7 linked regions of the Homo sapiens genome follow. The protein of the gene in region 1 purifies or fractionates together with the protein of each later gene. This does not show direct contact. Each region holds a gene or a part of one and is shown in the gene's direction. Other genes may lie near its edges.

The links.
Region 2: the proteins of SLC5A12 (region 1) and NUMB purify together in Homo sapiens (affinity purification with mass spectrometry; one large-scale study listed by BioGRID and IntAct). This does not show direct contact.
Region 3: the proteins of SLC5A12 (region 1) and ATP11C purify together in Homo sapiens (affinity purification with mass spectrometry; one large-scale study listed by BioGRID and IntAct). This does not show direct contact.
Region 4: the proteins of SLC5A12 (region 1) and PCYOX1 purify together in Homo sapiens (affinity purification with mass spectrometry; one large-scale study listed by BioGRID and IntAct). This does not show direct contact.
Region 5: the proteins of SLC5A12 (region 1) and CORO1B purify together in Homo sapiens (affinity purification with mass spectrometry; one large-scale study listed by BioGRID and IntAct). This does not show direct contact.
Region 6: the proteins of SLC5A12 (region 1) and NUMBL purify together in Homo sapiens (affinity purification with mass spectrometry; one large-scale study listed by BioGRID and IntAct). This does not show direct contact.
Region 7: the proteins of SLC5A12 (region 1) and EARS2 purify together in Homo sapiens (affinity purification with mass spectrometry; one large-scale study listed by BioGRID and IntAct). This does not show direct contact.

The regions. Positions count from the first base shown.
Region 1 is NC_000011.10:26,676,735-26,680,946, reverse strand, and holds part of SLC5A12 (sodium-coupled monocarboxylate transporter 2), read left to right. Parts: intron 1-2,131; coding exon 2,132-2,235; intron 2,236-4,212. UniProt on the Homo sapiens protein: Acts as an electroneutral and low-affinity sodium (Na(+))-dependent sodium-coupled solute transporter.
Region 2 is NC_000014.9:73,448,190-73,452,401, reverse strand, and holds part of NUMB (protein numb homolog), read left to right. Parts: intron 1-4,212. UniProt on the Homo sapiens protein: Regulates clathrin-mediated receptor endocytosis. Plays a role in the process of neurogenesis.
Region 3 is NC_000023.11:139,786,406-139,790,617, reverse strand, and holds part of ATP11C (phospholipid-transporting ATPase IG), read left to right. Parts: intron 1-1,129; coding exon 1,130-1,291; intron 1,292-2,274; coding exon 2,275-2,426; intron 2,427-3,373; coding exon 3,374-3,445; intron 3,446-4,212. UniProt on the Homo sapiens protein: Catalytic component of a P4-ATPase flippase complex which catalyzes the hydrolysis of ATP coupled to the transport of aminophospholipids, phosphatidylserines (PS) and phosphatidylethanolamines (PE), from the outer to the inner leaflet of the plasma membrane.
Region 4 is NC_000002.12:70,264,393-70,268,604, forward strand, and holds part of PCYOX1 (prenylcysteine oxidase 1 precursor), read left to right. Parts: intron 1-4,212. UniProt on the Homo sapiens protein: Prenylcysteine oxidase that cleaves the thioether bond of prenyl-L-cysteines, such as farnesylcysteine and geranylgeranylcysteine. Only active against free prenylcysteines and not prenylcysteine residues within prenylated proteins or peptides.
Region 5 is NC_000011.10:67,440,482-67,445,414, reverse strand, and holds the start of CORO1B (coronin-1B), read left to right. Parts: upstream 1-1,938; 5' UTR 1,939-2,011; intron 2,012-2,784; 5' UTR 2,785-2,786; coding exon 2,787-2,987; intron 2,988-3,326; coding exon 3,327-3,449; intron 3,450-3,552; coding exon 3,553-3,682; intron 3,683-3,900; coding exon 3,901-4,082; intron 4,083-4,170; coding exon 4,171-4,290; intron 4,291-4,933. UniProt on the Homo sapiens protein: Regulates leading edge dynamics and cell motility in fibroblasts. May be involved in cytokinesis and signal transduction.
Region 6 is NC_000019.10:40,680,266-40,684,477, reverse strand, and holds part of NUMBL (numb-like protein), read left to right. Parts: coding exon 1-61; intron 62-1,509; coding exon 1,510-1,584; intron 1,585-1,675; coding exon 1,676-1,750; intron 1,751-3,420; coding exon 3,421-3,561; intron 3,562-4,212. UniProt on the Homo sapiens protein: Plays a role in the process of neurogenesis. Required throughout embryonic neurogenesis to maintain neural progenitor cells, also called radial glial cells (RGCs), by allowing their daughter cells to choose progenitor over neuronal cell fate.
Region 7 is NC_000016.10:23,520,254-23,524,014, reverse strand, and holds the end of EARS2 (nondiscriminating glutamyl-tRNA synthetase EARS2, mitochondrial), read left to right. Parts: 3' UTR 1-2,214; coding exon of another isoform or gene 2,215-2,222; 3' UTR 2,223-3,261; downstream 3,262-3,761. UniProt on the Homo sapiens protein: Non-discriminating glutamyl-tRNA synthetase that catalyzes aminoacylation of both mitochondrial tRNA(Glu) and tRNA(Gln) and participates in RNA aminoacylation for mitochondrial protein translation.

The DNA.
Region 1 (4,212 bases):
GAGACTCACTCAGGGAAGTACCCAGCACTGAAGAGTGCCACGCAGGGCTGCAGCTTTCTGCAGATGTCCATTCCTCTGTATTCAGACATACAAAAACCAATTTGGTGAAAGAGTTAATGCGAGATATGAGTACAAAAGAGAAAAAATAGTGGAGGGTTCAAAGACAGGTGACTGGGTATGAGGAACATGGTTTCCTCAAAGAATAAAACTCAGTAGAAGAAGTTTGTGAGCAATGAGGATAATGCTTATGGGCAAGCTGAGTTAGGAGCACCGCTGTGAACCTATGGCTTCTAAACCAAACAATATGAACACAGGGTTTAACAAAGGATTTCCCTTTGTACTTCTGGCTGGGGTAAGTGATCAAATATATCAAAATACATCAGATACTATGGTGTAGAGAGACGATTGTGGACTTTGAAATCTGAAATATTTGGGTTTGGATTTTGGTTTTATAATTTATTCCCTCTGTATCTTTGGACAAGTTAGTAAGTTGTAACTTCTTGAATTCTCAGAGCCCTTGATGGAAAAATGAGGAAATATATATATATATATGAATATATATACATATATATATGAATATATATACATATATATATGAATATATATACATATATATATGAATATATATACATATATATATATGAATATATATACATATATATAAAGTAGCACTACACGTGACTTTAATAAATGTTCACTCTCACATTCTAATTGTATGTAAGAGCAAGTCTAGAAAATATAGGATTTGTGTTATTTGTGTATCCTCAAAAGTACTTCATTTTTAGTAGCCCTTTTCTGATTATCATCAATATCTCCCCATACTGGCTCATTCCCTCTGAGTCCAGGCTTCTCAAACTGGCCAGATAATGTGGCAAATTGCATTCATGAAAGTCTCTCTCGGTCCGGCATATCTTCTCCTCTCCATTGTCCTTGTCAATCTTGAGGCTAGTCTTGTCTTTACAAAGTCCAGAAAAGTGAAATTATCTTATTTGTATTTTTTATTTCCTCCATTTTTCTATCTCTTTTCCTTTCTAATACAACCCATTCTATCCAAGCATCACTAGATTTATTTTTTCTGAAGCACCTTTCTGAACTCATTACTACCACATGGAGATGACTTAAATGATTCATGTGCTTATGGAATAAAACACAACCTTTTTATCCTGGAGCTAAATACCTGCCAAACTTAAAACTTTCCTGTGGTTTTAATGTTATTAACTATTGTTTTCCTTCTACTCTGAATTCTGTTTCTTCTCGTCTACCTATGCTTATCCCACTCTTTCCTACATTTGGGTCCTTAAGCTATTCCCTTTACATGAATATATTTTAGTGTTCATTTCCACTCTCCTAAAATCTGTTTATCTTTCAAGAGCCATACTAGTGTCTCCTATTCCTCCATAAAGTTCATTTTGACTCAGGTTCCAAATGGGCACTCCATTATTTTGCTTCCATTTGTCTTTGAGTTTCATTTTCTTTCCATAAATTTTATATCGAAGAATTTCAACCTATTCATGGTTCCCCATAAACCATGTTGATTCTTCCCTCCTGCCTATACTTACTGTATTCTCTTCTTAGAATGCTAATTCCTGGCCCTGACTACCCTCTTTGCTTGATTAACTACTAATTATTCTTTCAAAATGAGCTGAGGTATCATCTCACGCATTGGTCTGAATTTGATACTACTCTGAAGGCTGCCATAGTATTTTATACCTTTTCTACTGAGGCAAAACCAACCCATTTTATGATTGTCTATTAGCTCCTGTATGTAGACTTTGTGACTTTCTCATCTTTATATCACTAATGCTTGTCACAATTACTAGCACTAAATCTGGGCTTAATAAAAGTCTGAAGAATAAATAATACAAATGAAATTGTATTATTTGTATTAAGACACAATCCTCATTGTAATACTTATGATTCAGTATCAACATCGTTATATTTGTAATTCAGGAATGAATTGAATTGAGTGGAATACAAAGCACATCTTCTCTAAATATAATTTTTTAAATGACAAAAAGTTATGATTTAGGCTTTTGAGATGCCAGGCCCTAAAATGAATCCTGAGCAGTCCTCTACATCACTGTGGGTCTTTAGGATGCATGGAATTGGTGACATGTGCTGTTCTCCACAGACCTGGAATAGCTGATACCTGGTACTCGATCTCCTACCTTTACTACAGTGCAGTGGGCTGCTTAGGATGCATTGTTGCTGGAGTAATCATCAGCCTCATAACAGGTTGGTTATAATTCCTCCCTTTGGGACTAAAGAAGATATGGGCTCATGCATGCATTGGTGGACTGGCTGTCTGTCTTATTGCTTTGAATTCACGTTTCCCACAAAAACCCTTCTTCCCACAGAGATGTCTACTCTCTCAACGCTGACATACAAAGGCACCCTTCATTATTATATACCTGACTATTAATATATAAAACATATATTCACGGGAGGCTGAGGCAGGAGAATCGCTTGAACCCAGAAGGTGGAGGTTGCAGTGAGCTGAGATGGTGCCATTGCACTCCAGCTTGGGCAACAGAGCAAGGCTCCGTCTCAAAAAACCAAAAAAAACCCCAACCAAACAAAAAAACATATATTCAAACATTTCCCATATATTATTTAAAAAAAGATGCTTTGACACATGCCCCCCAGAGGCCTGAGTATGAAAAACCCTCTGTAATATAACAATCAGTAAATAAGGTTAAATATTCAGAGTGGTTCTTTTCCCTTCATCCCAGTAAGAGACAAGATTTTTGTCATCACCATCTTACTATCTCATGAAGTCAGCCTTTGCTAACTTACTAGAAAAGCAAAACACTGTTGTTTTTGCCTATGTTGTCCTTTGGAGGCTGCTTCTCTAGGGTCGTGGAGTTCTCTGCAGTGAGCAGCTTCACTGTAAGCCATTTTTAGCAAAGTGTCTACCATCCATACTTGCCCTTTTGATGTATTAATGTCCTTTTTGTTTCAAAGCCCATGAGGGGTTGGTAGTGGTGAGAGTGTGGGAGATAATGGGGTGGAATAAGTTCACTGTACTCTTGTCCCTCCACCTCCTTGGAGTATGTATTTTAGCTAAAAAATTTTAAGGTATTCTATTTTTCCATGACTATTATATACCAATGAACAATGGCCAACATTCTGACTCAACACAAAACCTGAATGGCAACATTTCTGGTGACTGTGTACTAGAGATGTTATATTGAAGCTCCAATGCCCTATTGTTCTGTGCATGATGTCACTAGCCATTCACTGAAATTTAAGAAGATCTTGGCTATGATAAAGAATAGACTATAAATCTTGTAACCCCAGTCTTTCACATAATAACAACTCTCTCAATGTCTTTATGTAAATGGTTTCAGGCAAAAGATTGTTTATTCATTTTGTTTAGATTTTGCCTTAGTACCCTGACATCTGTAACTCCTTCCTTGATGCTAGTGGGATATACCTAGACATTTCAGTTTAGTGATCGGTCACCACTAAGAAGACAACCAAGATTTCAGCTGCCTGAACATTTCCTTCTAAATCAGGAAATGTGTACACATGAAATCCAGTAGTTTGCCAGTCCATATTTTCCATGTGTGCACCAGAATTAGCATGCTCTTATGTTGATACAGCAGCACTTATATTAAATTTGATTGAAAATTCTTACACATTTTCAGCATGAATAACTCTTCCAGTATTAATCCCTTTGTTTTCTTTTTCTCCAAATAAGCCAGGTCTTAGTCAAATGCCCTTCAGGCCAAAAGCGAACACTCTAACAAAGTCTAATTATGCCTTCAAACATTTGGAAAAATTTTTGAACATGACCACCAGATGTTCTTGCCTCCTGGTCCCTGTCTTCCAAATGAGGCCTTAGGGCTAGCCTGATAACCTCAGGTCTGCTCACTAAGAGGCTTTAACAAATCTTCTGTAATACCCACTGAATCTTTTAAAAAGTCTTACAATGTTTAAATGTAGAATAGGGTCAGTAAGGAAGGACAGAGGCCTTTTGTGGGCCTGTTCTCCTTGTGTCATATTTTATCTTGGTCTTGTTTGGTCTTAATAGGTGATGTCTTCAATTATACTTCTTCCAGATAAAATACGGCACCTCGAAGATATGCTGTTTATGTTACTCATACATGTTGACACATAGAATCATGTCTGTGTTGATTAGCAACTCCAGGAAGTTTATATCATTAATCATTTTGTGCATCAGCTGCTGAAAGATCTTGGCCTAAGATA
Region 2 (4,212 bases), on another chromosome or scaffold:
ACTACAGGCTGCCCAGTTTTGTTTTGTTTTGTTTTGTTTTTGAGACAGAGTTTCGTTCTCGTTGCCCAGGCTGGAGTACAATGGCACAATTTTAGCTCACCGCAACCTCCACTTCCTGGGTTCAGGTGATTCTCCTGCCTCATCCTCCCTAGTAGCTGGGATTACAGGTGTGCACTACCACACCCCGCTAATTTTTGCATTTTTAGTAGAGATGAGGTTTCACCATTTTGGTCAGGCTGGTCTTGAACTCCTGGTCTCAGGTGATCCATCCACCCTGGCCTCCCAAAGTTCTGGGATTCCAGGCGTGAGCCACCACGCCTGGCCAGTTTTTTTTTTGGGGGGTAGAGACAGGGTCTTGTTAAACTCCTAAACTCAGGCAGTCCTCCCAAAGTGTTGGGATTACAGGCATGAGCTACCGTGCTCAGGCTATCTTACGTTCTTTTAACCAAGATCAAAGTCTTCAATTACCTGAGTAGGACAGCAAAATCTTAATTATGGTAACTTGATTATATTAAGGTGAATTATAGTTAATTTGGAACATTTCTAGTTTAATTAGGGAAGAAGAGGGAAAAACTGTAGAATACTGCTTAGCTCTGAATAAAGGCAAAGCTGGGGCAACCAGGGACACAGAAATCAGCTAAATTTGTAACTTTATTTAAGATTGGCCTTGGTTACCTTTGACTTTGGAAAAGTAATAGTGATACTTTCGTCTAGTCACTTGTGCATATGTACATCTCAGGTACATTTTGATTTTATCATGTAGATAATTTGTGAAGGTTTATTTACTTAATTTATTTTATTTAAAGATGCCCAGGCTGGAGTGCAGTGGCACAATCTCGGCTCACTGAAATCTCCACCTCCCAGGTTCAAGCAATTGTCCTGCGTCAGGCTACCGAGTAGCTGGGACTACAGGGGCATGCCACTATGCCTGGCTAATTTTTGTTGTAGGTTTTTTTTTTTTTTTTTTAGACGGTGTCTCCTCTGTTGCCCAGGCTGGAGTGCAGTGGCTCAATCTTGGCTCACTGCAACCTCCGCCTTGTGGGTTCAAGTAATTCTCCTGCTTTAGCCTCCCGAATAGCTGGGACTACAGGCACACGCCACCACACCTGGCTAGTTTTTTGTATTTTTAGTAGAGATGGGGTTTCACCATATTGGCCAGGCTGGTATTGAACTCCTGACCTCGTGATCTGCCTGCCTCAGCCTCCCGAAGTGTAGATTTGTTTTTTGTTTTTTTTTTTTTTTTTTTTTGAGACAGAGTCCTGCTCTGTCGCCCAGGATAGAGTGCAATGGTGCAATCTTGGCTTACTGCAACCTCCGCCTCCTGGGTTCAAGCAATTCTCCTGCCTCAGCCTCTCAAGTAGCTGGGATTACAGGTGCCAACTAGCATGCCCAGCTAACTTTTTTGTATTTTTAGTAGAGACGGGATTTCACCGTGTTGCTCAGGCTAGTCTTGAACTCCTGGCCTCAAGTGATCCTCCTGCCTCGGCCTCCCAAAGTGCTGGGATTACAGGCGTGAGTCACTGCGTTTGGTTTATTTACTTAATTTCTTTTAATATAAGCGACTTTGTTATAAGAAGTTTTAACTCCCAGTATTCTGTTTTGTTTTTTTTTTTAAGATGGGGTCTCGCTCTGTCTTCCAGGCTGGAGTGCTGTGGCACGATCTCGGCTCACTGCAACCTCCGCCTATCAGGTTCAAGCGATTATCCTGCCTTCCGAGTAGCTGGGATTACAGGCGTGTGCCACCACGCCCGGCTAATTTTTGTATTTTTAGTAGAAACAGGGTTCCGCCATATTGGCCAGGCTGATCTCAAACTCCTGACCTCAAGTAATCCACCTGCCTTGGCCTCCCAAAGTGTTGGGATTACAGGCGTGAGCCACTGCGCCCAGCCTAGCTCCCAGTATTCTTTAATCAAGATAAAACTTTTTTTTCCTCCAAACTAGTATCTCACAGAACCATAGAATAGCCTGCTGATGACAGAAATATATTTGTGACTGCCATGTTATGAAATTGAAAGAGCATCATTTATGTCCAGAGGCAGCATGACAGAATGGACAAAATTCATTATAATTGTGTGACCATGATTTTGAATCTTGACTTTATCGTTAATTTACTAATTGAGCAGTTTATTAAACTTCTTTTAGATTCAGTTTCGTCATCCATAAAATGGAGCTTATGCTATCCTCCACATCAGGGTGATGGTGAGAATTAAATGAAAAGCATTTTGTGTAGTGTATAGCATTTTGCCCATAGTGGGCACTTAACAAATTGTAATTGTTAATTATTAATAATTATCACATTAGATCTATTATAGACTTCTCTTTTAGGATGGGCTAATATTCCAGATACTGTTATTGTAAGCATTGTGGCAGCTAGGAAAACCAGAGTCGACTTTAAAACATTACAGGTATTTTAAGGCTGGGCGCGGTGGCTCACATCTGTAATCCCAGCACTTTGGGAGGCCAAAGTGGGCGGATCACCTGAGGTCAGGAGTTCGAGACCAGCCTGGCCAACATGGCGAAAGCCCGTGTCTACTAAAAATACAAAAATTAGCTGGGAGTAGTGGTGCATGCCTGTAATCCCAGCTACTCAGGAGGCTGAGGCAGGAGAATTGCTTGAACTTGGGAGGCAGAGGTTGCAGTGAGCCGAGCCACTGCACTCCAGCCTGGGCGACAGAGTGTGACTCTGTATCAAAAAACAAACACCAAAACATTACATATATTTTAAACATTTACTACTTCAGTTTGTTTTTGTGGTTGGTTTATTTTGGTGTATTAGACTGAAACATGGGGTAAATGAAGCTAATATTTTGTTGTGTGGTCACAGGCTGTTTATCTATCATATTATAGTCAGCCCTTATCTGTGTATTCTGCATCCTTGGATTCAACCAGCAGTTGATAGAAAATATTTGGAAAGAAAACCCAATAAAAAATAAAACAATACAAATAATACGAATAAATACAGTATAAGTATTTACATAGCTTTTACATTGTATTAGGTATTATATTAATAAGTAATCTAGAGATTATATAACATATATGGGAGAATGTGTGCAGGTTATATGCAAATACAGGTATCAGTGGGGGATTGATTCCAGGACCCCAATATACCAAAATCCATAGATGCACAGGTCACTTATATAAGATGGTGTAGTATTTACATATAACCTGCACACATTCTCCCGTATACTTTGAATTATTTCTCTAGATTAATTATAATACTTAATATTAGGTTGGTGCAAAAGTAATTACAGCTTTTGCCATTAAAAGTAATAGCAAAAACACAATTACTTTTACACCAACCTAATATGATATAAATGTTATGTACATAGTTATACTGTATTGTTTAGGGTATAATGACAAGAAAGAAAAGTAGGTACATGTTCATTACAACCATCCATTTTTTTTTCCGAATATATTTGATGCAAGATTGGTTGAATCCTCCTGTGTGGGACCCATGGATACAGAGGACCGACTGTACTATGCCATTATACATAAGGAACTGGGATATCTGCAGATTTTGGTATCCATGGGGTCCTGGATCGAGTCCCCCTCAGATACCAAGATGTGACTGTACCTGGTCCTCTTCCAAATACATGTGAGTTTTTGACAACAGTGGAAACCATTAATCCTACTACTAGAAAAAAACAATTGAGCATTATATTATTTACTGATTTTGTTATTAAAATCATTGCTTTTATTGAATTATTTTATTTACTGATATTGTTAATGATTTTAAATTAGTTCTAAATGCCAGTTAGAACCAGCTTATTTTTCCCTGGAGTTAATATATTTATCTTCGCAATTCAAGTAGAAATAGTTTTTATTTCAGAATTTAAGCCCTGTATCTTCCTTAGATAAGGATTTGGTCAAATGAAAGAAAAATCTGTATTTGTAGAAAGCTGTTAAAATCTGGCCTGGTGTGGTGGCTCATGCCTTTAATCCCAGCACTTTGGGAGCCAAGGAGGGAGAATTGCTGGAGCCTAGGGTTTTGATAAAAGCCTGGGCAACGTAGCAAGACCCTATCTCTATTATAAATTAAAAAAAATAAAGCTGTTAAAAGCTATATTATTTATTGTCTCTGATGAAAGGTGTACAATTTCCATCACATTCATGATGTAATAGACTTCAAATCTCATCAGTGAACATAATTTTGAATTATTATTTTAAAGAGTTGATTCATTCTTGTTTTTGAAAATTATCTAGCATTGGTGG
Region 3 (4,212 bases), on another chromosome or scaffold:
TACTTTTAAAAGGGGAAAAAAACCTTCATCAGTTTCTGTTTTATTTTGTTACATCCCATTTAATTTATTGGGAAAAAATTTTTAATGGGTAATGTACGTACTAGCCCACAAAGTGTAAGAGTGTGTGTGTGTGTGTGTGTGTGTGTGTGTGTGAGTGAGAGAGAGAGAGAGAAATAAGTGGTCAGTATAGTCTTACTTCCCACTTGAAAAATTGACTTATGTAACTTCTTTACATCAAACAGGTTAACTGGCTGGGCATGGTGGCTCATGCCTATAATCCCAACACTTTGGGAGGCCAAGGCTTGAGCCCAGGAGTATGGGACCAGCCTGGGCAACATAGTGAGATGCTGTCTCTACAAAAATTACAGAATAATTAGCCTGGTGTGGTGGTGCGTGCCTGTGGTCCCAGCTACTTGGGAGGCTGAGGTGGGAGGATTGCTTGAGCCAAGAAGTTTGAGGTTATAGTGAGCTATAATGGCTACTGCATTCCAGCCTGAGTGACAGAGTGAGACCCTATCTTAAAAAAGGTTAACTTAAATGAGAAGCGTTCTTAGTTTGATAAAATAGTCACTTTTTTTTTTTTTTCCTGAGACAGAGTCTCACTCTATCACCCAGGTTGGAGTATAGTGATGTGATCTCAGCTCACTGCAACCTTTGTCTCCTGGATTCAAGCAATTCTTGTGCCTCAGCCTCCCAAGTAGCTGGGATTTCAGGTGTGTGCCACCACACCCAGCTAATTTTTGTATTTCTAGTAGAGACGGGGTTTCACCATGTTGGCCAGGCTGGTCTTGAACTCCTGAGCTCAAGCAATCCTCCTGCCTCAGCCTCCCAAAGTGCTGGGACTACAGGCATAAGCCACCGTGCCTGGCCAATAGTCACATTTTTTTCTATTCATCTTTTACATTTGAGTAGATCTACCTTAGACATGTGATAGCATTTTGGTGTCTTTAAAAATACTCATTTATTCCTCATTTCTTTGGTAATATTGTCTCTGTAATTCCCTGACATTTGACAAGAAGTCTTAGAAGGGGTGATTTCCTATGGATATGAAAATAGCTTTGCGTTACAGCAAACTAAAAATTAGTCACACTGAAGAAACTAACAATATATGTTTGTGTCCTTGTTTTAGGTGGATTATGTATTTACAGATAAGACTGGAACACTCACTGAAAACAGCATGGAATTCATTGAATGCTGCATAGATGGCCACAAATATAAAGGTGTAACTCAAGAGGTTGATGGATTATCTCAAACTGATGGAACTTTAACATATTTTGACAAAGTAGATAAGGTGCATTTGCATTATTGTTTTATATAAGAAACCAATCTGTGTATGCATGTTAACATTCCATAGTAGAAAATAATTTTTAGGTGGACACATGACATAGACTTTTGTGTTTTTGTTTTTTTTTTTTGAGATGGAGTCTCACTCTGTTGCCCAGGCTGGAGTACGGTGGCATGATCTCAGCTCACTGCAACCTCCGCTTCCCAGGTTCAAGCGATTCTCCTGCCTCAGCCTCCCGAGTAGCTGGGATTACAGGCGCCTGCCACCATGCCTGGCTAATTTTTTTGTATTTTTAGTAGAAACGGAGTTTCACCATGTTGGTCAGGCTGGTCTCAAACTCCTGACCTCAGGTAATCCACCACCCTCCGTCCCCCAAAGTGCTGGGATTACAGGCATGAGCCACTGTGCCCAGTGACTTTAGAATAACTATTGTTGGATTCACCTTTCTTGTTTTACTGACACTTCTGAAATTTGTAAATGAGTAGAATTTACAAGTAAAGAGAATTGTGGGAAATGACATTTGGGTAAAAGCTTGCTTGTCTGTATGATCATAATTTTTTGTGCTTTGTCTTTTAAAATGTAAGCTCCTCCAAGAATGATGTCTGTTCAAATGATTAAAGTCTCAGGAGTGTCTAGGCATTAAATTAACCAGAGTCTCCCTACACTTGAGCTATTGCTAGATTGTGAATTAGATACTGAATGAAGTTTTTTAGGCCATGAAGAAGTCACTGCTTTGGCTTAGGTGGTGCCACAATAACCTTAATGAGTTAACACAGCCTATAGGGTATGCTAGCTGAGAACCAGGAACTCTTATTAGGTACTAGGAGAATATATAGCAGATTTGAGTGTTAAGAATTTATACGTATCTGCTACTAAGTTTGTTAGAAGTTACAACATTCTCTCACATTAATATATTTTCTCCGTTCACTGCCTAGTTACCGGGTGATCAAATTAAAAATAATAATCATTATTTTGTTGCTGTTCCACAGAATCGAGAAGAGCTGTTTCTACGTGCCTTGTGTTTATGTCATACTGTAGAAATCAAAACAAACGATGCTGTTGATGGAGCTACAGAATCAGCTGAATTAACCTATATCTCCTCTTCACCAGATGAAATAGCTTTGGTGAAAGGAGCTAAAAGGTAAAGTATACTTTCTTATACTTCTCCTAAGAAAGTGAAATCACAGGAGGACAGAAGTTATTTGTTTTTTTCCGTTTGCTTCAGTGACCTTAGCACATACATCTCCTATTATTTAATAAAAAACACAACTGCTTTAGCCAAAAATTTGTGGAAAATTCCCACACCTAACCAGTTAAGACTAAAAAGAAAATAGTTACAGGTAGGTATTACTTGCCTTACTATTTATGCATGCCAGCCAGAAGTCTGAATGTTCATACTATGTTTTGCAAATAACATAACAGTGGCCACTTTTTGTACAACACATGTTATTTCTGAGGTGCTCCCAGCAATTTTGACATCATTTGAGAACCGAAAGTCCAGTTTTACCCATGAGGTTCAAGATAATTAAGTGGCTCAAAGGTCACCCAGTGTGTTAGCCGTAGAATCAGAAACCCAAATTGTCTCTCCCTTGGTTACAATAATTGTGGCTGGGCATTGACTTTCTCTGTTATCAACTTATCCAGGAAAAGAAAGTACAGTTATATGTTGAGATCATATGAAAGAGAAGAAAAGCATAAACAAGCATGAGTTACCCCATTGAAAGTAATCATTCTAGACCAGGTGCGGTGGCTCACGCCTGTAATCCCAGCACTTTGGGAGGCCAAGGCGGGTGGATCACCTGAGGTCAGGAGTTCAAGACCAGCCTGGCCAACATGGTGAAACTCTGTCTCTACTAAAAATACAAAAATCAGCCGGGTGTGGTGACACACACCTGTAATCTCAGCTACTCAGGAGGTTGAGGCAGGAGAATCGCTTGAAACTGGGAGGTGAAGGTTGCAGTGAGCCGAGATCGCGCCACTGCACTCCAGCCTGGGCAACAGAGCGAGACTCTGTCTCAAAAAAAATAATAATAAAAAAATTAATCATTCTTTAGAGATACACAAGGTCTTTTTTATTGTTTTTGATAGGTACGGGTTCACATTTTTAGGAAATCGAAATGGATATATGAGAGTAGAGAACCAAAGAAAAGAAATAGAAGAGTAAGTAGCTCTGTGTTTGATGTTTGTCATTTCTTAACCCCATAGTCAAATTTAAGTGGATTCAGGCAGGGCAGCAAAGGAAATGATGCCACTAAAAATACAGGACCCTGCTCTCCCAGTTCAGAGTTTTATGTAAATATAGTTGGGGTAGAAGCCATGTTACATAGAATTGCAGAAACTGGAGTTTGAGGTGGAAATTCCAATCTGGTTCACATCTGGGTCCAGTAGCCAGAATGAGAGTTTGCCTGGAATGTTTCTCAAATTTAGATGCCATTTCAGGTCTCTAACACATGCTACAGGAAAAATCAGTGAATATATGTGAAACCTTCTGCTATCTAGTGTCCAAGCAATCACTCTGGGATTGCAAGCCCAGGCAATAAAGGCAGCTTTGCTGTAAACCAGAAGCCTTGTTTGGTTCGGAATGTTCAGGTGTGAGCCTCGGGGCAAGTACTCTGATGCTCCAGTGTCTTCACATTTCCTCTTTTGCCACAAAGACCCTAATGAACAAAGCCACCTTATCTTAATGGTGGATTTTAATTAGGCTCTGTGATTAATTTGAATTTCCTCATCTGAACTTGAAATATAATTATGTTATCTGACTTTCATTCTGGCCCCTAGGATCTCCTGAGACCCATCTCAGAAACCTGTAATATGTTTACAGGTACTTGGGTAATGCACCCTTTTGGAGAGAGATTCATAGAAGCCCAGAGGAAGGTTCTTGGTCTGACTGACAGGGACCCAGGGTCATTGTCAGAGTTTAGATTCTA
Region 4 (4,212 bases), on another chromosome or scaffold:
CTCGGCTCACTGCAACCTCTGCCTCCTGAGTCCAAGCGATTCTCCTGCCTCAGCCTCCTGAGTAGCTGGGATTACAGGCATGTGCCACCATACCCAGATAATTTTTTTATTTTTAGTAGAGATGGGGTTTTACCATGTTGGCTAGGCTGGTCTCAAACTCCTGGCCTTAATTGATCTGCCCGCCTTGGCCTCCTAAAGTGCTGCGATTACAGGCATGAGCCACCGCACCTGGCCTAAGAAATCACTTTTGAAGTGAATTCAAGGTATTACAGAACTGGGAAAAAGAACCAGTGAGGGGATACATAGGTTATACTGTTTTTGACTTTAAAAAATAATTTACGGGCCGGGCGCGGTGGCACACGCCTGTAATCCCAGCACTTTGGGAGGCCAAGGCAGATAGATCTTGAGGTCAGGAGTTCGAGACCAGCCTGGCCAACATGGTGAAACTCCGCCTTGCTAAAAATACAAAAATTAGCTGGGTGTGGAGGCGCAGCTAATGCCAGCTACTTGGGAGGCTGAGGCAGTAGAATCGCTTGAACCCAGGAAGCGGAGGTTGTGGTGAGCCAAGATCAAAGTATACACAAGGTGGAGAAAGACCTATGTAACAGTAGTAAACCATGACACTCGAAAGAGGGCTCAAGCTTGTGGTAGGCAATACTCGAAAACAGTGCATTCATTCATTCTCTGCTGTTGGAGGTACTTGAGTGGAAATCCTGCAGCCCCTGACATCAGCACTAGCTAGCTTAATTTCCACTTCTGCACATACATTTATGTAGTTGTTCTGGTTGGATGCCATTCTTAACTAATTTTTTTTTTTTTTTTTTTTTTGAGACCAAGTCTTGCTCCGTCACCCAGGCTGGAGTACGGTGGTGCAATCACAGCTCACTGCAGCTTTGACCTCCTGGTCTCAAGTCATCTTCCAGCCTCAGCTGGGACTATAGGCATGTGCCATCATGCTTGGCTAATTTTTTAAATTTTTGTAGAGACAGGGTGTTGCCATGTTGCCCAAGCTGATCTTGAACTCCTGGGCTCAAGTGATCCTCCCACCTTGGCCTCCCAAAGTGTTGGGATTACAGGCGTGAGCCACCGCGCTCAGCCGGATGCCATTCTTTACTCCCAAGTCCAACCTCTTATCTCACTTTTTCAGCAAAGCATTTCCTTAATGCTTCAATCAACATTCATCTTTCTTTTCAAACATCCCTTATTATACGGTGCACACTGTGTGCTTGTGTTCTATGCTACGCACAGTAACTAGAATGTAGTAGATGTTTACTCAGATGTTTGTGGAATTTAAATCTCTGGTCTGCTGATGGCTTCCTGTTGAGATATCTTGGCTTGTAGACTAGGTTAAAGCTTATTCTTCTCTCTCAAGTTAGTGCATTTCTGGGGACTTGTAAGATCCTTAACACTTCTTGATCTGAGACTGATAGACTCACAGGGAAAGGCTTTATAAACACCCTTTCTTCCTTCCAGTTACTCCTACCAAATATTTTGAGTCAATTTTTGTTCTTTCATTTCCCAAACCCACTCTATCTTGAATCCCATCAGCCTTTAAAATACATCCAGTATTCCACTACTTCTCTCCAGGATTACTGCTACCACTTTGTTCCAAGTCACCACCACTGTCTCTTGTCTGGATTGCTAGAGTAGCCTCCTATTATAGGCTGAATAATCCTCTCCCCTGCTGTCTGCCACAAGATGTCCATGTCTTAATTCCTGGAACCTGTGAATGTGTTACCTTTTGAGGTAAAAGAGACGTTGCAGATATGGTTAAGGATGGGTAGATTATTCTGGATTATCTAGGTGGGCCCAATATAATCACAAGGGTCCTTAGAGAGGCAGGAGGATCAGGGTAGGTAGTAGGAGATGTGATGATGGAAGGAAGAGATTGGAGTGATGCTAGGAAGGGGTGTGCGTCCACGAGCCAAGGAATGCAGGTGGCCTGTAGAGGCTGGAAAAGACAGTCTTCCCTCAGAGCTTCTAGAAGGAACCAGCCTTGTGCACACCTTGATTTTAGCCCGGAGAGACTGACTTTGGTCTTCTAATTTACAGAACCGTAAGATTATAACTTTTTTTTTTTTTGTTAGTATTTATTAATCATTCTTGGGTGTTCTTCGGAGAGGGGGATTTGGCAGGGTCATAGGACAATAGTGGAGGGAAGGTCAGCGGATAAACATGTGAACAAAGGTCTCTGGTTTTCCTAGGCAGAGGGCCCTGCCGCCTTCCGCAGTGTTTGTGTCCCTGGGTACTTGAGATTAGGGAGTGGTGATGACTCTTAACGAGTATGCTGCCTTCAAGCATCTGTTTAACAAAGCACATCTTGCACCGCCCTTAATCCATTTAACCCTTAGTGGACACAGCACATGTTTCAGAGAGCATGGGGTTGGGGGTAAGGTCATAGATAAACAGCATTCCAAGGCAGAAGAATTTCTCTTACTACAGAACAAAATGGAGTCTCCTATGTCCACCTCTTTCTACACAGACACAGTAACAATCCGATCTCTCCTTCCTTTCCCCACATTTCCCCCACTTCTATTCGACAAAACTGCCATCGTCATCATGGCCCGTTCTCAATGAGCTATTGGGTACACCTCCCAGACGGGGTGGCGGCTGGGCAGAGGGGCTCCTCACTTCCCAGACAGGGCGGCTGCTGGGCGGAGGGGCTCCTCACTTCTCAGAGAGGGCGGCTGGTCAGAGAGGCTCCTCACCTCCCAGACGGGATGGCGGCGGGGCAGAGACACTCCTCAGTTCCCAGACGGCGTCGCGGCCGGGCAGAGGCGCTCTTCACATCTCAGACGGGGCGGCGGGGCAGAGGCGCTCCCCACATCCCAGACGATGGGCAGCCGGGCAGAGACGCTCCTCACTTCCTAGACGGGATGACGGCCGGGAAGAGGCGCTCCTCACTTCCCAGACTGGGCGGCCGGGCAGAGGAGTTCCTCACATCCCAGACGATGGGCGGCCAGGCAAAGACACTCCTCACTTCCTAGACGGGGTGGCGGCTGGGCAGAGGCTGCAATCTCAGCACTTTTGGGAGGTCAAGGCAGGCGGCTGGGAGGTGGAGGTTGTAGCGAGCCGAGATCACGCCACTGCACTCCAGCCTGGGCAACATTGAGCACTGAGTGAGCGACACTCCGTCTGCAATCCTGGCACCTCGGGAGGCCGAGGCTGGCAGATCACTCATGGTCAGGAACTGGAGACCAGCCCGGCCAACACGGTGAAACCCCGTCTCCACCAAAAAATACGAAAACCAGTCAGGCGTGGCGGCGCGCGCCTGCAATCCCAGGCACTTGGCAGGCTGAAGCAGGAGAATCAGGCAGGGAGGTTGCAGTGAGTCGAGATGGCAGCAGTACAGTCCAGCCTTGGCTCGGCATCAGAGGGAGACCGTGGAGAGGGAGAGGGGGAGGGGGAGGGGGAGAGGGAGAGCTGTTTTTTGTTTTGAGACAGAGTCTTGCTCTGTCACCCAGGCTGGAGTGCAGTGGCACAATCTTGGCTCACTGCAGCCTCCGCCTCCTGGGTTCAAGCAGTTCTCTGCCTCAGCCTCCCGAGTAGTTGGGATCACAGGCGCCCACCACCATGCCCGGCTAATTTTTGTATTTTTAGTAGAGATGGGGTTTCACCATCTTGGCCAGGCAGGTCTTGCACTCCTGACCTCGTGATCCACCCGCCTCAGCCTCCCAAAGTGCTGGGATTACAGGTGTGAGCCACTGCACCCGGCCGTAAATTTGTGTTGTTTTAAGCCACTAAGTTTGTGGTAATTTGTTATAGCAGCAGTGGAAAACCAAGACACCTCCTAAATCATCTGCCATTACTGTTATATTGCTACCATTTGTTCTCAGGTTAGCAGCCAAAGTAGTTCTTTAAAATCTAAGGCTCATCACATCACTCCACTAACTCAGAAACCTTCAGTGGCTATTTCATTAATAGAGATTTATAGCCAAAATCTGTTTTGTGACTGAGAAGACATGACAGGATTCTGTGCTCTCATCCCTTACTTTTAAATTTGTTTTCCCCAAAATTCATAGGTTGAAACACTAGCCACCCAGTACTCAGAATGTGACTGCATATGTATGTAGGGCCTTTAAATATGTGATTAAGTTAAAATGAGGTCTTTAGCGTAGACCCTAAAACAATTTGATGGGTGTCCTTAAGATTAGGACACAGAAAGGAGGCCAAGGCGGGCAGATCACCTGAGGTTGGGAGTTCGAGACCAGC
Region 5 (4,933 bases), about 41 Mb from region 1:
AGCCGATGGGGATTGCATCCGGCTGGATGACCTCAGGCAGGCACCGCACCTCTCTGTGCCTGTTTCCTCAATGGGGTGTGGCAATGGGAATGAGATGGGAGACAAGCCCGAGGTCACCCTCAGACACACAGTGGGGGCCTCTTTTAGCCAGAGACAAGGCTCCTGTGACCTCTGCTCTTCCCCCGCTTCGTCCTCCATCCATCTCTTTCTGGGAAAGGGAGGGTGCCATCGGTCAGCCAGGGCAGTGGATGCTCAAGGAAAGAATAAGGGAAGTAGCCGGTGCCCCAGAGCCGCTGGCCTAAGGGAACGGGGGTACATTCCACCTGTGGAACGGGATGGGGTGGGTCTGGAGAGGCCAGTCTGGGCTCCTTGTCACAGGCGCTGGCTAGAGAAAGAGAGAGGCCTGTGAATGGATCTCCAGGCCTTCGAGGGAGATGGTGGAGAAAAGAAGGCAAGGTGCAAGGGACTCACTGGCCATGGCCCCCTTTCAAATTGTAATAAGAAAGCTCAGCAGAATGCACAGGTGTTTACCCTGAAAAATGGGACTCCTGGGTCTTCCACTCGCTCCATAAACACTGCTATTTTCTGGATGGGCACGGTGGCTCACAACTGTAATCCCAGCACTCTGGGAGGCTAAGGCAGGAGGATTGCTTGAGCCCGGGAGTTCAAGAGCAGCCTGGCCAACATGGTGAAACCCTATCTCTACTAAAAATACAAAAAAAATAGCAGGGTATGGTAGCAGGCACCTGTAATCCCAGCGAATTGGGAGGCTGAGGCAGGAGAATTGCTTGAACACGGGAGGCAGAAGTTGCAGTGAGCCGAGATCGCGCCATTGCACTATAGGCTGGGAGACAGAGCGAGACTCCATCTCAAAACAAAACAAAAAACACACCAGCCTGGGCGACAGAGCAAGAGACCCCATCTCTACAAAAAGTAAAAGAAAAATTAGCCAGGCGTGGTGGTGTGTGTCTGTAGTCCCAGCTACTTGGGAGGCTGAGGCAGGAGGATCCCTTGAGCCTAGGAGGTCGAGCCTGTAGTGAGCCATGATCATGGCACTACATTCTAGCCCGGTAGTGACAGACCTTGCCTCAAAAAAAAAAAAAAAAACCACCCCAACACCTGCTGTTGTTTTCTTTACATTGTTAACCAAGAGCATGAAATTTAGGCCGGGCATGGTGTCTCACGCCTGTAATCCCAGCACTTTGGGAGGCCGAGGCGGGCGGATCACGAGGTCGGGAAATCGAGACCATCCTGGCTAACATGGTGAAACCCCGTCTCTACTAAACATACAAAAAATTAGCCGGGCGTGGTAGTATAAGCCTGTAGTCCCAGCTACTGGGGTGAATTTCTTGAACCTGGGAGGGCGGAGGTTGCAGTGGGCCGAGATCGCGCCACTGCACTCCAGCCTGGGTGACAAAAACTCCGTCTCAAAAAAAAAAAAAAAAAAAAAAAAAGAGCATTAACTTTGATAACTTAAAAAGAGTCACGTGAACATATCCACTGTCCGTGTAGATTCTACATTTATTTGTTGGGGGCGGTAATGGGGCCCCTTGGAGGTGTGCGTTCCGTCGGGGGCCGGGAAGGCGGGGCCTCACCCAATCCTGGAGACTCCTGCGGATGCCATTATGAGGAGCAAGAACGCGAAGGGGCCTCGGGTCCGCTGTAAGGCTGCACCCGCACCTGCGGCGCCTCTGCGGCGGCCGCCGTCGGCCCTGCCCCGCCCCGCCCCCTTCTTCCGGAGGAGCTGCGGTGGGGGCGCTCCACCGGGTCCTAGGAAAGGGGCTCTCTCTGGCCCCGTCCCCGGCGGCCCCGCTCCCGGCCCCCCGGCGCCGCTCAGCCTCCCGCCCAGCCCCTCCGCGCGTGACCTCGGCCCCGCCCCCGCGAGCCCCTGCCCCGCCCCCGCTCCGGGTCCCTCTGTCACTTCCTGAATCCTGCTTCCTGCTTCCCAGAGGCCGGGATCCGGAGCCGCCCGAAGCCGGTGCCGCAGCCCCCTGCGCCCCCGGTGCCCCCGGTGAGCGCGGCAGGGCCGGGGCTAGGGGCGCGGGCTGGGGGCTGGGCGGGGCTGCAGGGGCCGGGCTGAGGGGGCTGAGGGGGGATCGCGGGTCCCAGGAGCCTTTCGCCTCCCCTCTACCCCACTCAGTCCCACTCCCCTTGGCCGCCCAGCCTCTCCTCTCCTGGGCGGAGGTCCCTGGAAGTTGGGCTCCTGGTTCACCCTGGACCCCGATTCGAGGCCGCTCTGGGTTGCTTCGCGGCCCACAGCTGCGTCCCGACCCCGTCCCTTCCTGGGGGCCATGCCGGGGCTCCCTGGACATTCCCTGGGACTCAGAACTGGGCACTCACTCGGCCCCACAGTAGAGAGACTTTTCCTGCTTCCTCTCTCCTTCTTCCCCATTACCTAGCCTCCAAATCTCTGGGAGCAGGAAGGAGGCTGCTCCCGACTGGCTGGGACCTACAGTAGAGCTGAGAGCTCTCCAACCCCGGCACCTCCCACCTCCTGCCCCCGACACACACCAGAGCCAGGGAGGGGCCCTGCGTCCTGCAAAGCCCCTCAGGACTCAGCAGTGGTCAGGGCCGGAGCATTTACCTCTCAGATCACTGCCTGCGGGGTGACAGGCGGCCAGGCTCTGCACCTGTGACCCCATTCTGTAACTGGGTAAACCGAGACCCAGGAGGGTTACGGTGGCCTGGCCCCCGGTTGCATCCTCCCGGCTCACCTTCAGCAGCCTGGGGAGGGCTGGAGTTGTTGGGATGGGCCGGACTGACCCAGGCCTCTCTGTCCCGCAGACATGTCCTTCCGCAAAGTGGTCCGGCAGAGCAAATTCCGGCATGTGTTCGGGCAGCCGGTCAAGAACGACCAGTGCTATGAGGACATTCGCGTGTCCCGTGTTACCTGGGACAGCACCTTCTGCGCCGTCAACCCCAAGTTCCTGGCGGTGATTGTGGAGGCCAGTGGAGGGGGTGCCTTTCTGGTGCTCCCCCTAAGCAAGGTGGGTCCTGTCAGGGTTGGGGGAAGAGGAGGCACCTCGGCCACCCCTACTGGGCCTTTCTGCACACCTTGAATCCCTCATCTTGCCGTTTCTCACACTGCTGGGCAGGTGTTATAACCCAGATTTATCGCCCCAAGTGTTAGCACAGATGGAAAGTAGCCTGTTGCCATAGAGGCAGGGTTAGAGGCAGCAAACATTTCCTGCTCACCTGGCAAGTGGGGCACAGTCACATCTGGGCCACCTGTGAGCCGGGACGTGCATGTCATTCCCACTCCATGGAGGGGAAGACCAAGGCTTCGGGAGGGATGGAGCCCACTGACTGCCCCCTCGTGCCCACAGACGGGCCGCATTGACAAGGCCTACCCGACGGTGTGTGGGCACACGGGACCTGTCCTGGACATCGACTGGTGTCCTCACAACGACGAAGTCATAGCCAGCGGCTCGGAGGACTGCACGGTCATGGTGAGGCACAGGACTGGCTGGGCCAGGGTCGTGGGTGTGGCCGAAGGGGGCCAGCAATAGGACCAGCAGAGGACTGAGCTCGGTGGCCCTGTCCCTACCACAGGTGTGGCAGATCCCAGAGAACGGGCTGACCTCCCCGCTGACAGAGCCGGTGGTGGTACTGGAGGGGCACACCAAGCGAGTGGGCATCATCGCCTGGCACCCCACGGCCCGAAACGTGCTGCTCAGTGCAGGTCTGCACCGCCCCCCGTTTTGTGCTCCCCCCCCCCACGGACCCCTCCATACATCCCAGCAGCCCCTCCAGGGCCCACATGACAAATGGGAAAGCTGAGGCCCTCAGAGTTGGAGAGACCCGTCTGTCCCAGGGTGGTGGGCAGAGTGGGCCTCAGCCTGGTGAGCTAATGGCCTCCTGCCACCCACCCGGCCCGAGCTGACAACCCTCACCTGCCAGGCTGCGACAACGTGGTACTCATCTGGAATGTGGGCACAGCGGAGGAGCTGTACCGCCTGGACAGCCTGCACCCTGACCTCATCTACAATGTCAGCTGGAACCACAATGGCAGCCTGTTTTGCTCAGCATGCAAGGACAAGAGCGTGCGCATCATCGACCCCCGTCGGGGCACCCTGGTGGCAGTACGTGGCTCTGGAGGGCAAGGATGGCTGTGGATAGGCCCAGGACCTTGAGCAGGGCGCTGCACTGACCAGCCTGTCCCCCCGACAGGAGCGGGAGAAGGCTCATGAGGGGGCCCGGCCCATGCGGGCCATCTTCCTGGCAGATGGCAAGGTGTTCACCACAGGCTTCAGCCGAATGAGCGAGCGGCAGCTGGCGCTCTGGGACCCAGTGAGTGGCCAGCCTGAGGGGGCAAACTTGAGACTTGGGCCCCACCCTGGGCCAGGCAGGCAGGGTTCACCCTGGGGAGGCCTGTGGTTCCTAGCTTCTCTGCCTGGAACTTGAGGCTCTCAGGGCCTAGGACTCTGTCAGACTTTCCTCTCCTGCCCCCTGCTCGCCCGACTGCCCCACCACTCCCCCATGGCCTCCCACTGCCTCTGTGTCTTTGCCCATGTTGTTCATGCCAACGGAAGGGCCCTTCTCTCCCTTGCTTGCCTGTACCACCCACTGCCTGCACAGGGCTCCCCGCTCCTCCAGAAAGCCTCCTCCTCCAGCAAGCCTCCTGGCCCCAGCCCTCTCTGCTTCTGCATAGTGACCTCCAGGGCACCTTGAGCAGGGGCTGGTGCCGCTGGCACCCCAGCTCCCCACAGTGAGGTATGTTTCAGCACTTGCTTAGTGGCCTGGGCATAGTCTTAAGGCCTGGAGGAGGCTGGAAAAGAGGGACCCTGGGAATAAAGTGAAGCCAGGAGGGCCAGGTGGGGGTCGTCATGTGGGAAAAGGCATAGAGATGGCAGAGGGCCCACCTGCATTTAGGGGCAGTGCTGGCTGGCCTTAGTGAGGCCAGCTAAGGCCCGTCCTGGTTTGGGATTAGGGG
Region 6 (4,212 bases), on another chromosome or scaffold:
GCACCAGTGGCAGGCAGACGAGGACGCGGTGCGGAAGGGCACGTGCAGCTTCCCGGTCAGGGTGAGTGGGCGCGGCAGGGTGCGGCGGGGCGAGGGGGACGGGGGCCGCTGTGCTGTGCTGTGCGGGTGCGCGGCCTGGCTGGGACACCAGCCCAAGTCGTTTGAAGTTGGTGTTAAAAAGCGTGAGGCCGGCAGTCCTGGCTATCACGGTGAAACCCCGGCTCTACTAGAAATACAACAAATTAGCCTCGCGTGGTGGCGGGCGCCTGTAGTCCCAGCTACTGGGGAGGCTGAGACAGGAGAATCGCTTGAACCCGGGAGGCGGAGATTGCAGTGAGCCGAGATAGCGCCATTGCACTCCAGCCTGGGCGACAGAGCAGACTCTGTTTCAAAAAAAAAAAAAAAAAAACTTGAAGCGTAGTGGTGGCTAACACCTGTAATTCCAGCACACTGGGAGGCTGTGGTGGGAGGATTGCTTGAGTCAAGGAGTTCAAGACCAGCCTGGGCAAACACAGGGAGACCCTGTCTCTACAAAAAATAGGCACAGTGGCACGCACCTGTAGTCCCAGCTACTCACAAGGCTGAGGTGGGAGGCTCACTCGAGTCCAGGAAGGTCGAGGCTGCAGTGAGCCTTAATTGTGCCATTGCACTCCAGCCTAGGCAACAGAGTGATACCCAATCTTGAAAACAAACAAAAAACCAGAACACATTTTTTTGTACCAGCAAACTATTACCTGGAAGCCGTCATGTGGTGTAGCATTTGCAAAGCGCTCTACCGATAAGGACGTTCTGGTTTAGCCATACCCTACGCTTTTACATTCCTGTGAGGGGGAGAGCAGGATTCACGGCGTGGACTGTGGAGCTCAGCCCCTTCCTGGCTGGGTGATGACTGACCATGGTCACAGCCCCTCCACCACCTTACGTTCCCTTCCCTGGAAGCAGACTTTGAATGTGACGGCTTCATTTGGGAGGTGCAGGAAATGGTGTTGGGAGTGAGGAAAGTAAGGCAGCCAGTAAAGGGTGTGTTATTAAAACTGCAGCAGTGTGCAACTGAGCTTTCCCCTGGGAAACTCGAGGCAACAGTCATCCCACCTGCAGATGAGGGAGCTGGGGCTCAGGTACCCTAACTCCCTTCAGTCATTGTGGGGACTGGCCCAGGCTCTTTCTAGCTGCTTTAGGGTAGGCAAAGCAGCTTTGCATGGCCTGTGGCCAGTCCTCACGCACAGAGATGCAAATACTAGCTCTCGGGAGGACCACGGTGCCGGGTTAGGGCCCAGGGGTATAGCTAGACTGGAATCACTACTACGTGCTGTGCTTCAGTTTCCCCATCTGCATGTCTAGACCAGGAATGGGGTCTCCACCTTGTAGAGTTGAGATGCAGAATAAATGATTGCATACACATCATGTGCTTAAAATATTGTCTACTGCATGGCAGATGCTCAGTGGACACTGAGAATGAGTGATTACTGTGCTGTTTCATGTCCCCCCCCCCATTCCCTCCAACCCAAGTACCTGGGTCACGTGGAGGTAGAGGAGTCCCGGGGAATGCACGTGTGTGAAGATGCGGTGAAGAAGCTGAAGGCGGTGAGTGAGGGGGCTGCCATGAGGGAGGGGGCAAGGTCAGACAGGGAGAGGCACCCTGACCCGGCTCCTTTGTCCCCTTGCCTCCCTCCAGATGGGCCGAAAGTCCGTGAAGTCTGTCCTGTGGGTGTCAGCCGATGGGCTCCGAGTGGTGGACGACAAAACCAAGGTAGGAGGCCTGTGGGGGTGGACGCCAGGGGGCCTGTCTGCTCACCCTGCTGGAATCAGGGCGGAGGACACCTTCCCGCCTCCTCTGCACATCCCTCCCTCAGGGACCTTCTAGACGATGCCGTGTGCTCCCTCTGTCGTCATAACTCAGGAATAAATGCTGTGATTATTTGGGAACTGGCATAGGCTGTGGGTGAGAGAGACTGGAGCAGCTGCCTCAGCTCCGATCCCAGCTTAGGGACCCTGGGCATGAGATTTAACCTCTCTGAGTCTCAGTTGTGTCATCTGAAAAATGCAGATTATAGGCCGGGAGTGGTGGCTCACGCCTGTAATCCCAGTACTTTGGGAGGCCAAGGAGGGTAGATTACCTGAGGTCAGGAGTTCGAGACCAGCCTGGCAATATGGTGAAACCTCATCTCACTAAAAATACAAAAATTAGCTGGACATGGTGGTGTGTACCTGTAATCCTAGCTACTTGGGAGGCTGAGGCAGGAGAATCTCTTGAACCCGAGACTTGGAGGTTGCGGTGAGCGGAGATCATGCCATTGCACTCCAGCCTGGGCAACAAGAGCTAAACTCCATCGCAGAAAAACAGGGATTATAATAGACCCTACCATTAAGTGAGAAAGCATATGCAAGTTATTTGAAATGGTGCCTGGCTGGGAGGGCCCCTTGAAGCCAGGAGTTCAAGATCAGCCTGTGAAACATAGCAAGGCTCCATCTATACAAAATAATTTTTAAAAAAATTTAAATGTGGGCTGGGCACGGTGGCTCACGCCTGTAATCCCAGCACTTTGGGAGGCCAGGGCAGTTGGATCACCTGAGGTCACGAGTTCGAGACTAGCCTGGCCAAGATGGTGAAACCCCACCTCTACTAAAAATACAAAAATTAGCCAGACGTGGTGGTGCGTGCCTGTAATCCCAGCTACTTGGGAGGCTTAGGTAGGAGAATCACTTGAACCCAGGAGGCAGAGGTTTCAGTAAGCCAAGATCATGCCACTGCACTCTAGCCTGGGTGACAGAGCAAGACTCCTTCTGGGAAAAAAATATATATATATATTTAAATGGGGTCTAGTACATCGTAACTGCTCAGATCAATGAATGTTAGCCATTAAGTGTTTATTGTCACCCTGCCCAGTCAGAAGGAAGCACTATGAGGCCACAATCTAGGTATCTGTTTGCTCACCTTGAATCTGCTGCCCCCAGCCCAGAGACTGCCCTAGGAGGTGCCCAGGACATGCTGAGAGTTGGGTTAATAACAGAACAAGATCACCACCTTTGCAAGGCAGTTCCCTCAGCCCAAAATACTGTTCCTTGACTTTTTTTCTTAGTTAGTACCTGCTCCAGGAAGCCTTGCCTGACTGACCCCAAGCTGGCTTCTGCCATGCTGGCCCTGACCCCTCTGCCTGTGCCTCCATGGTCCTGGCCCTGACCCCTCTGCCTGGGCCTCCTTCATCACATCCTGGCTATGACTCTGGGCTGCCCATCTCGTGATGGGTCTGATCTTCCCGCTGACCTGGGAGCCCTCTGCAGGCAAGGCACAGGGTGTCTCAGTGACTGCTGGGTCCCCACCCTGTTCAGGACTGGATTTCAGCAGACACAGAGAGAATGTTGAGTGAACACTTGAAAGAGAGTTCACACTCTTCTCCTGGCCTCCCCGGCCCCTCCTAGGATCTTCTGGTCGACCAGACCATCGAAAAGGTCTCCTTTTGTGCTCCTGACCGCAACCTGGACAAGGCTTTCTCCTATATCTGTCGTGACGGGACTACCCGCCGCTGGATCTGCCACTGTTTTCTGGCACTGAAGGACTCCGTGAGTATTGCCACAGCTGGCCAACTCTTCCCTCCCATGCCCTGGCATCCCAGCCCCACCCCTACAAGCTTCCTGCATTCAGGCACATCACTAACCTCTGTGTGCCCAGTTTCCTCATCTGGAGAAGAAAGTATACTCACGGTTCCCAATTTAGAGTATTCACGTGAGGGCCGGGTGCAGTGGCTCACACCTGTAATCCCAGCACTTTGGGATGCTGGGGCGGGGGGATTGCCTGAGCTCAGGAGTTCAAGACCACCCTGGACAACATGGTAAAACCCCATCTCTACTGAAATACAAAAAATTAGCTAGGTGTGGTGGTGCACACCTGTAGTCCCAGCTACTTGGGAGGCTGAGGCAGGAGAATCACTTGAGCCCGGGAGGTGGAGGTTGCAGTGAGCCAAAATTGCACCACTGCACTCCAGCCTGGGAGACAGAGTGAGACTCCATCTCAAAAAAAAAAGAGTATTGGCCAGGCGTGGTGGCTCACGCCTGTAATCCCAACACTTTGGGAGGCCAAGGCAGGCAGATCACCTGAGGTCAGGAATTTGAGACCAGCCTGGCCAACCTGGTAAAACCCCATCTCTACTAAAAATACAAAAAAAGTAGACAGGCATGGTGGCAGGCGCCTGTGATCCCAGCTACTCCAGAGGC
Region 7 (3,761 bases), on another chromosome or scaffold:
CACAGAACCAGGTGGTTTAAACAACAGAGATTTATTTTCTCACATTTGGAGGCTAGAAGTTCAAGATCAAGGTGTCAGCAGGCCTGGTTTTTCCTAGAGGCCTCTTTTGTTGGCTTGCAGACAGCTGTCTTCTCACTGTGTCCTTGTGCGGTCTTCCCTCCATGCACACACATCTCTAAGTTTCATTATGTGCCCAACGTTCCTCTTCTAAGAACACCAGTTGGACTGGATTTTAACTTTAACCAGCCTCATTTAAGTTAATCACCTCTTTAAATGCTCAATCTCCAAGTACAGTCTCATTCTGAGGTTCCAGGGGTTTCTCAACGTAAGAATTTAGGGGGACAGAATTCAGCCCGTAGCAGCTGGGCAGCAGGACTCATGGGTCCCAGTTCTCAGGCCCCAAGGACTCAGAGCAGCAAAGGATACGTGACACAAGCAGGGCTGAACTGGACACCAGACTTTCTTTGGGGTTGTAAAAGGAGAAGTGTGACTCCACTGCCAAGGGTAAGCACTCTTGTCTTATGCTACCCTTTATTCTTGAACCTTGGGGCAGCCTGTGTCTCCCTTCCCTAAACGTCATCTGTTCCGTTTTTCCAGTCTTCCAGACCTGGTCCTTGGACTGGAGACCTTCACCCTTCCTATTTTGTGGCTTTCTCTTCAAATCCACCTCGTCCTTCCTCCATGACTTATAAGTCATCATCTCTGCTGGTTTCTGAAATGAGATATGCTTCTTGGGGTCTTCAGTGAAGAGGAATAGCAAGTGAAAGGAGGATGGTGGCAGGGTACATGAACCCCTACCAGGCTTCTAGGCTTCCCCTGCATGGCAGCCAGCCTCTAAGTTGGCCCCCAACCATCCCTGCCTTCTTCTATTCACACCCTTGTGTGGTTCCTTCCCACATTGAATAGGCCTGACTTGTGTAACCACTACACTATTGAAGAAATGAGAGTTTGACTTCTGAGGGTAAGTCATAAAATACATCGTGGCTTCTGTCTTGTTTTCTTTGATCGCTTACTTTGGGGGAAGCCAGCTTCCAGGTCATGAAAATACTCAAGCAGCCTTATGGAGTGCTCCACATGACAAGGGATCGAGGCCTCCCACCAATAGCCATGGGAGTGTGCAATCTTGAAAGCTGGTCCTTCAATTCCAGCCAAGCATTCACATGACCGCAATCCTAGCTGATCTCGCTTGTGACCTCTATGGGAGACCCTAAGCCAGAACCACTCAGAGAAGCTGCTCCGGAACGTCAGACACACATGAACTGTGAGATAGTAAACGTTTATTGTTTAAAGCTACTTGGTTTGGGGATAATTTGCGTTTCAGCAGTAGACAATATATTTATTTTGTCCAGGGGAGTGGAAAGGCGATTACAGAGTTTGTTGAGCCCCATAGAGTCCTAGTCTTTGCTTAAAGAAATATACCAGTTCTTTCTAATACAGAATCCATTAAGTTCGTTGGTTGCAAACAATAGAAACCAACTCTGCCTCACTTATGTTTATTGGAGGCCATAAGAGAGCCACAGCATCTACCAAAAAGCCAAAAAAAAAACAGGTTTTGGAAAAGACAGGAACTAGCTACAGGAGCTAATGGCCAATCTTGTCTGAGTTCTTTGATGGCGACACATGAACTACAGCCGTTTTGTTGTTGTTAATTTCTCCGTGTTTTCCCCTCAGTTTTGGATGACTCTGCTCAAGGTTCAGATTCTGAGGAGCAAGTATCTGTTGGGCTATCTGAGGTCCTGCTACCATTCCTTGGCCAGTAATAGGTAGTTTCACAGGGATTATATGCAATGGAGGAAAAGTTGTTCTCAAGGAAAACTAGGGAGCTTTCTCCAGAAGATGATGTAATGGCAGAAACAACAGGTGGTTGACCACAGAAGGGGACAATAATAATACTTGTAATTTATTGTGCGCTTATATGAGCCTCACCCTCTCCCAGGTGTCAGATAATGCTCGTAAATGCCTTAGTCCATCATCTCAGTAAATTTTTTTTATAACACTATGAGAGAAGCAGTATTTTTTTTTTCTGTTACAGATATGGAAACCGAGGTTCTGAAAAGTTAACTAAAACTTCCGAGGTTATAGTACGAGGCAAAACCAAGATTTAAACTCAGATCTGTGCCGATCCAGAGTCCAAGCTTAACTCTGATCTACTGAGTGTTGTCAGAGCATCTGTTTCTAAGACATTAAGAATGGTTAAAAGGAGCTTCTTGGCTCATGGTCAAGTGAGTGTTTTTAACAAAGTGAGTGGTCAAAATACTAAGTCGATTCTGGTATATCTACAACATGGATGAACCTCTAGGACTTCATGCTAAATGAAATGTCAGTCACAAAAGGACAAATACGTCCTAATGCTTTGTGAGGCAAAGGTGGTAGGCTTGTCAAAGGCCAGGAGTTTGGAGACCAGCCTGGGCAACATAGTGAGATCCTGTCTCTACAAAAAATTTAAAAATTAGCCAGGTGAGGTGACATATGCCTGTAGTCCCAGCTACTTGGGAGACTAAGGTAGGAGGATCACTTGAGCTGAGGCGTTAAGGCTGCAGTGAGCTATGAATGCACTACTGCACTCTAACCTGGGCAACAGAGCAAGATCCTGTGTCTAAAAAAAAAAAAATGAATAAAATAAAGTTAAAAGGATAGATACTGTAAGATTCTACTTATTTGAATTACTTAAAATAATCAAAATTATACAGGCAGAAAATAAGATGGTGGTTGTCAGACTTGGGGAGGCAGAAATGGGAAGTTACTGTTTAGGGTATAGAGTTTCAGTTTTGCAAGATGTAGTTACAGGGGTCAATGGTGGTGATAATTGCACAACATTATAAAGATACGTAATGCCGCTGAACTGTATATTTAAAAATGACTGAGATGGTAAATTTTATATTTTTCTGTATTTTACCACAGTTTTTAAAAAATACTAAATTAGAGCTGGGCCTGGTGGCTCACACCTAGAATCCCAACATTTTGGGAGGCCAAGGCAGGCAGATCACTTGAGGCCGGGAGTTCAAGACCAGCCTGGCCAACATGGTGAAACCCCATCTCTACTAAAAGTACAAAAATTAGCCAGGTGTGGTGGTACATACCTATAATCCCAGCTACTTGGGTGGCTGAGGCACAGGAATTACTTGAACCCCCACAGAACGGGAGGTTGCAGTGAGCCAAGATCACACCATTGTACTCCAGCCTGGGGAACAGAGCGACACTCTGTCTCAACAAGAAATTAATAAAAAAGCGAAATTAATAAAGCTGTTGCTACTTCCTCAAGTGAAGTGTGCTGTGCTATCTTGAAAGCAGCTCCAGACGTCTGTCTTCTGTTTGAGGGTTTTGCTCAGGATCAGTAAGACTTTTTTTTTTTTTTTTAAGAGGATGTTGCTCTGTTGCCTGCCCAGACTGGAGTGCAGTGGCACAATTATATTTCACTGTAGCTCTAACTCCTGGGCTCAAGAGATCCTCCTATCTCAGCCTCTTGAGTAGCTGGAATCACAGGTGCATGCCACCACACCTGGCTAAGTAAAAGTGTTTGAAGGAATTTCATACATTTTAAATAACCTCAAGCCCATCCCCAGTGTTTTGAGGGTATAGTGCAGCAGTGAAGGGCACAGAGGCTGTCTAGATTCAGAAACATTCTGCCCCTTATTCACATGTGACTTTCTGTACCTCAATTTTCTTGTTTGTAAAATAGGAATAAGAATTGTACCCATCTCAAAGAGTTGTAAGGATTGGAATAGATAACATATACGAAGTTCTTTTTTTTTTTTTTTTTT